Linked DNA regions of Homo sapiens. The protein of the gene in region 2 purifies or fractionates together with the protein of the main gene of each other region. This does not show direct contact. Each region holds a gene or a part of one and is shown on either strand. Other genes may lie near its edges.

Evidence for each region.
Region 1: the proteins of SLC26A7 (region 2) and ELAC2 purify together in Homo sapiens (affinity purification with mass spectrometry; one large-scale study listed by BioGRID and IntAct). This does not show direct contact.

What each region holds. Positions count from the first base shown.
Region 1 is NC_000017.11:13,011,198-13,015,027, reverse strand, and holds part of ELAC2 (zinc phosphodiesterase ELAC protein 2), read left to right. Parts: intron 1-531; coding exon 532-589; intron 590-1,752; coding exon 1,753-1,821; intron 1,822-3,245; coding exon 3,246-3,365; intron 3,366-3,830. UniProt on the Homo sapiens protein: Zinc phosphodiesterase, which displays mitochondrial tRNA 3'-processing endonuclease activity. Involved in tRNA maturation, by removing a 3'-trailer from precursor tRNA.
Region 2 is NC_000008.11:91,395,341-91,398,839, reverse strand, and holds the end of SLC26A7 (anion exchange transporter), read right to left. Parts: 3' UTR 685-3,499; downstream 1-684. UniProt on the Homo sapiens protein: Acts as an anion channel mediating the transport of chloride, sulfate and oxalate ions. Mediates the transport of bromide, iodide, nitrate, gluconate, thiocyanate and bicarbonate ions.

The DNA.
Region 1 (3,830 bases), on a different chromosome or scaffold from region 2:
GGCCGCTACCCACACTTCCATCTGTACCCATCGCTGAACTGCAGCTGCATGGGCTGACTCTTATGTCCCTCTAACTCCCTGGCCACTTCAGGACTTTCGCCCTTCCGCGGGTTCCCTCTGCCTCTTCTAATTGCTGCCTATATTGTTACTGAACCTTCAGGGCTCAGCTAGAGGGTCATTTACTCCAGAACTGCCTCTTCTTCTCTAGACAAGTTGGATCCCAGCCTTCTGTATTTTTCATTTTCCTTGCAGAGCACTTAGCATAATGCCACTAAGCTGTTTCTGTTATCGTGTTTCCTTTTGTCTCCTCCACTGGCCTGATTAGAGCAAGGCCTCCATCTCTTTTTCCTGCTATATCCTTGGCATCTGATATAATGGATACTCAGTAAATATTTGTAATAAATGATGTTCAAAATATTTACTAAGCTTTGTTTTATGTTGATACCTATTGGTAACCTTTTAAATACTTGAATAGTTGCTGTGTTCTACATTTGTTCAACCATAACTGCTCATTTCTTTGTTTTTCATTAGGAAAAATACCTCGAAGCAATCAAAATATTTTCTGGTCCATTGAAAGGAATAGAACTGGGTACGTCTTTGTCTGTGACTCATCCTCTGCTATTTCTAACTTATATATGCCCTGACCTCTCAAATTAGAATCCATTAAAAACATCAACATCAAACCTCAAAATCAAATGCTTCATCACCACGAGATTTTTTTTTTTTTTTTTTTTTTTGGATAGAGTCTTGCTTTCTTACCAGGCTGGAGTGCAGTGGCATGATCTCGGCTCACTGCAACCTCCACCTCCTGGGTTCAAGCCATTCTCCCACCTCAGCCTCCTGAGTAGCTAGGACTACAGGCGCATGCCATCACGCTCAGCTAATTTTTTGTATTTTTAGTAGAGACGGGGTTTCACCATGTTGGCCAGGATAGTCTCGATCTCTTGACCTTGTGATCTGCCCGCCTCAGCCTCCCAAAATGAGCTACCATGTGGCTGGAGATGGGATTTCTAAATAGTGACATTTTCTGTGTTCCCACCTCATGCTGTAAAAATAGGGGCCAGGTCGGCAGGAGTGATTGAACAGCTGATGCCTGCCTGTGTACATGCTGTGTGGCATTCTCCATCCAGACGGCAGGGCTCCTGCCTCAGTTCCAGAGGTGCTTCTCGTCGTTGAGTTGCTTTGAGTTGGGGGCGGGGGTGACAAGGGTTCCCTAGAGGTTTTGTGGCCAACTTTGTACATTGAAACGCAGCTCCAGCTGCGCAGGGGGGCTTACAGCCTCTTGATGGGAAGAGGCCTCACTGAGGATGCTAGTAGGGCTCTTGTCCTGGCACTGGTGTGTATCTGTGGCTTGTTAATACTCCTCTTTTATAGAAACACTAATACTTTGTTTCAAAATATACATCAGCTCTTCTGGTTTGCGATGATAGGTTCCCTGGCTTCACTATTCTGTTTGTTAACTTGGGTCTCTGAAAGTTGAGTACTAGTTTCTTGTTTTTCAATTTTTAACGGATAGTCACCAAAGATTATAATGTCTTTTCATCTGGCTGTAGTAAATATAAATGGCTGACCAAAATACACTTTTATTTATTTCCTAAAAATGGTAATCTCCTTAGAAAGTCTGGTTTTCGTGTCAGATTCCCACCATAATTCTGAGGCAATTCAGTTGCTCGTGGTTGGTGATCCTGAAGTTACTCTTCCCACACATCTTCACTAATGCAATCACTTTGCTGTTGTGTGGTTTTCTTGTAGCTGTGCGGCCCCACTCTGCCCCAGAATACGAGGATGAAACCATGACAGTTTACCAGATCCCCATACACAGTGAGTATGAAAGCCAGGTTTCCCAGGAGGAGGGTGTACGTCCTGAGTAAAGAAAACATGGATGAAAATAGAAACTGAACACTTGCTGTGGGCACCCTGTTTTGTGTTCTGAGCATGATTAGAAAATTTAGTTGAGGAATGAAGATATGGCTCCTGCCCTGGCTTATAAACTTACGGATGTCTGACTTATGCCTAATGATAGTGATTATGCTTTGGAATATTAGATAATCAAGCACTGTTGGTAAATAGATTGCATTCAAGTTTGCACATTCATTGCTTGGAGGTTTTTTCCCACAGGCGTAATACCCTCTTTTGATCAGACGATCATGAAGAGGTTTGCACAGATAGATTTTTTTAAATAAATAATGATTACAGCAACCTAAAAGAAGTGTTGTTGGGGGTTAGAAGCTCCTGCAAATTCCGAAGTATCAGGGCCAGATGATGTGGTCTTAGCTTAGGAAAAGAGTTAGTCTTGTCCTTGAACTTGGCTAAAGACATTCATGTCTGGTTTTACTTACATGTGAAGAGAGTACCAAGCAGTAGGGGTATTTCCTTGTTAGTACTAACTAATGTGATGCTTACTAAGTAGTGCTGATGGGTGACAGACCAGAGCACCCAGCAAAGGCCAGAGAAGTCCAGAACCTGGCGAGGAGATGAGGCTTACACTGACTGAAGGCAGAAGGCAGCAGGGAGGAGAGGAATGTGCCGGAGCAATGGCACAAGTGCTCCTAGGCCAGTGCTGTGATGAGCTGATCAGCACTCCCATTGCCTGGCTTGCTCCTCCTGCTCAGATGCCTTCTCTCACCTGACCCCTGCTGTAGCCACCCCCAGCCTGAGTTGCATCCACCTGTTTGTTGTCCATTTCCAGCACCCTGTTCTTCGCTCCATGGCATGTGACAGTTAACTTTCATATGTGATTTGCGTGATCGATGTTAACATGCTCAGTTTTGCCGATCACTGTTTTTTCAGTGTCCAGCGGCCCTCAGTGAGTGAACTTACGTTCATTCTCGTTGCAGCTGTGCTTTAGCTTCTTAGAGCAGCGAATTTTTTTCCCTTGATCTTGAGCCTTAACTAAATGTAAAATGAGGCTCCTTCTTGAGATAGGTACCCTTTGGGTCTATGTGTTTTAGCGGGAGTGATGATAATAAATAAGCATGTCTACAACCCACATGCTGTTTAGATAACACGTTGTTGAGTTGGTACTGTGGCCGAGGCTGTGAGCTAAGCAGAAACATAAACATTAATAGGACATAGGTGCAGCCCAGAAACCAGGTAGGAAGTTAACTAACTAGTTATTTCCTACTGTATAGTAAAAGGTGTGCTGATTTAATTGGCGTTCTGGCATTCCCATGTATGAACGTCTGGGCCTTGGCTGTCAGCTCACCTTGTGCAGTGTGTAATTTGGTGGTATCTGTACTGACCAGGTGAACAGAGGAGGGGAAAGCACCAACCATGGCAGAGTCCAGAAAGGCCTCTCAGCAGGCTCAGTCCAGAGCGATCTTCAGACTCCGAGTCGAATGAAAATGAGCCACACCTTCCACATGGTAATAGTATAAACAAAACAGAGCAGCAGAAAGGCTTGCGTTTTCTTAATTCTCTGCCTTGTAATGCTTGTAGAGAGTCATTATTGTAAGAAAGCCAGGTGTGTAAACAGATCCTTCTTCCTGGGCTTACTATAACTTGGCCCGTTGGGGGAATGAGAAGGGTTGTTGTAAAGGTGGCAGCCTGCAACTTTAATAATGACCAGTCCACAGTTTTGGCCACCCAGGGTCTGGGTAGGCCCAAAACTGTGTTCTGTTTTCCCAGAGGAGAACAGGGCCTGACAAACGGATTCATTTTGTATTTTTCATTAATGTAACATTTATGCAAATTTTCCATTAATGTGGAAACTATAACTGCTAAGCCAATGAGACAGTCAAATCAGTGAGAGGCTCTGCACGTCTTCCAGAATGACAGCCCACTGGGAAACGGAGTTAAAAGTCCAAGATGAGATGTAGCTCAGGAGTCAG
Region 2 (3,499 bases):
GCTGTAGTCTGGTATTCTGTTATAGCAGCCAGAACTAAGACACTACCATTTATCACCTTACTGCCACCCTATGTAGGAAGGCAACACTTTATCCTCTGCCATACTTCCTGTCATCTTTCCTTAATGTATTTTCATTTTGGCACATATTATCATCTAACTTACAATAAATGCATTTTAAACGTATTCTATTTTGTCTTCCCTTGTTAGAACAAAGTTTGTGAGGGCTTTTATTCTTTTTCTGTTTTATTATCTGCCATATCTCTAACACCTAGAAGACTTCCTTCGCTTCTTGTCTTTGGAAAAGTAGCCTTTAATAGACTGAAGAATATTGAATTCAGCCTAGGAAGTCAGGAAAGACAAACAACAGTATATAATGAAGAGCCAAAGCAAATAAAAAATTAAAATGTATATATTAATTAAAATTGAAATGCAAAGGATGTAAATCTGGTAAAAGAGTATGTCTAAATGTAGTTTTGTAGCAAAAAGTATTCTTATCAGCAGTCCATAAATTAAGGCACAGTATCTTACAGTCCTAGGTTGAGATTTTGTAAGAACAAATTACCAAGAATAATGGATACTTCCAGGAATATTCAACACATAATACTCTGCGGTCATTCCAAGAAACAGTATGTATTATTTGCTTTGCAGGAGAGTAAATACTATGAAATAATAGACGCAAATCCATTTAAGCATAATAGTTATCATATTTCGATTTATTTCCATGTAAATTGGTTGTTACATGCTGAGTTAGTACAAAGAATTATAAAAAAGATAATTAAATGCATTGAAAAATATAAAAAAATAACTGCAGCATATTAGACTACATGATTTTTAACTAAAAATCTTTGGATTGTGAAAGTACCACTTAACTCCCTATTTGAAATCTGGCCACAAACTCATTGCCAAACAGCATATTCTATACTGAATTAGATTATCATCCCACAAAATACAGAATGTGCATTTCTAAGGCATAATGTATGTTCAACAATATACTAATATATTTTGGAAACCACTAAATGTCAAGCATTATCCATACAGGGTATTAACACATTAATGTTTTCATTAAAAAAGAAAGATCTCTTTCTTCATCACATTACACATTTATAGAATAGAGATCTGTCAAATAAATTACTGCAAAGTAGTTCAAGCTAAAACTTATAACACTTGAATCATATAATCGGGAGCAAATAACCTTTAAAATGAAAGACAAATGGTGAAATTTAAGGGCATTTAATTTGCATAAATGTAATGTTAACAGTCTTTTCCTGGTTACATATTTTATGCTTAATTTATATATGTCACTCTATTAGGTCCTTAACACTCTTATAGGTCAGTTTTAATTTTTTCCAATTTTATTTTACCATAATAAGCATTATAGAAGTAGTTTGTCATATATAAAAATAAGGTAATCTCATAAAAATAATTCATTGTGACTCTAGAAACAATCCAGCATCAAGACCACTACACAGTTTTTGTGTTGTCAATGCCTGCTTCAAAATAAACATTTGCATTTTAGAATCTTGTGTGTCTAAACTCATGTTTAGCTCTTAAGCTCTCAGAACTCCATACCAGAGACTTCCTCCAGGTTAACAGTCATTGTAGCCTTGGTGTGTGGAAGTCTTAAAACAAAGGTCTTCATAAGGTACATGGTTTGGTCTTCCTTTACATTGAATAAAACATTAGCATTTGACCCCCAAGTTATTGGACTTAAAGTTTTATCCACTAAACTTCTACTATAAACACTGAAATGCATTAAAATATAACTGCTCAGACAATACTGTGTCCACTTTATCAACAAACTATAAAAACCATCCATCAATTAACTATGATTTTAATGTCAGAACTGATCCATAATCTCTAATAAATTAGAAAGTGCCTGCATTATACAAATTCAATTACAGGAGTTGCATAGCAAAATATCAATTTATACACAGCAAAATATATTTTCATTTTTGACTTTCCTTAACTCATGCTTACCTACCAGTGACCAATGAATTAGAGATGGTGAATATTACCATCCGCCATTGGAATAATTTAATTGGACAAAGCAGAATAAAATTATTTTCTCTAAGGAAACTTTACCTCCAATTATTACTTCTGCTTTTCCTTGGAAGAGTGTTTGATGGGAATGTGAGTTGGCCTCACTCATTTCAATCCAAGTTAGTGATAAAGAGACTGAGGCTACCATAGGGACAAACACTATTCTTTGTAGTTCATTTCAATCAAAATTGAAATGGCTGGATATGTTATAAGAATTCAAAACCTTTCTTAATTCTCTTTCATTTTACTACATTGCCCTACCTACGATTTAATGTTAAAATTAATGGCCATATGAATGTTTACCACACATTTGCTAGAGACCATTATAATCCATCACTTGGCAGGCACTAGAATTTACTTTTATAGATGCCAGAGAAAGCACCTAAATGGCTGGTATTTTAATTTTAGTTTCAACTTGTTTCTCAAACTCACTTTAAAGTACCTAGCTTTTTCTTACTCTGGTAATTTTTAGAGCGGTTAAAATGCTGTTAAAAGCTTAAGCATAATTATGTGTCTATGCCTATCTTTGAAGGTGATAATTTTTTCCTAGGTAAATCAATTTGCTAAATTAAAATGTGAAATTCTATGTACTTGTATGTGATTGAAAATATATGTATAAGCATGAAAACAGTAACATACAGTTCAGCCTAGCCTATGGCGTTTATTTGTCAATTATCCTGTTGGTTTGGTGGGTTTGAAGATAATCACATCAAGCTCTCCTCTAACAAAAGAAAAAAAAATCTATGAAGATCTACCTACCTATCCATCCATATGGATATAGATAAACATATTATATTGACTATCTCTGAAATAGGGAAGTCAAAAATTATTACAGTTCATCTTATACTGGAATAGCACAAAGCTATTCTGCTAGTGGTATTTTCTCATCTAAAAATTATAAAATGTGTAATTTTCATATTCTCTTTCTCCAACAAAGCTTCAGTGGAAAACAGAGCCTCTTATTGGGTAGAAATGTTAAAATTAGAGCTATTGGGTCTGAAGATCCTAAGCATTTCCAATATTCACAGCAAAACAGACCAATGTCAAGAACTTGGTTTTATTTGGATACCCGTTTCTTTCGATTATGAAAACATTCCTGAATACTTCAGAAATGGATGTATGGAAAGATATGGAAACGAATTATTTCCAGTTTTTCATTCGTTTTGTTTGGTTTACTTTTTGTGAATTTCACATCTTACTGTGTAAAGTAATATTTAGCCTTATTGATATTTCAGAGGCCTATACAGAGAGAAGTTGTGTGAAAATGGCACATTTGCTAAGTTGTTTTTATGTATTAGTTACAGATTATCTTAAAATTTTACAAATGGCTTGTAAATGTTCCAAATTACCTATGACAAAAGTATTTCTCAATTTTAAACATCAACTTACAGCACAATAGAAATAAAACAACACAAAATAATATGGTAAAATAAAATAAAACCATGTTTACCCTTCAGTA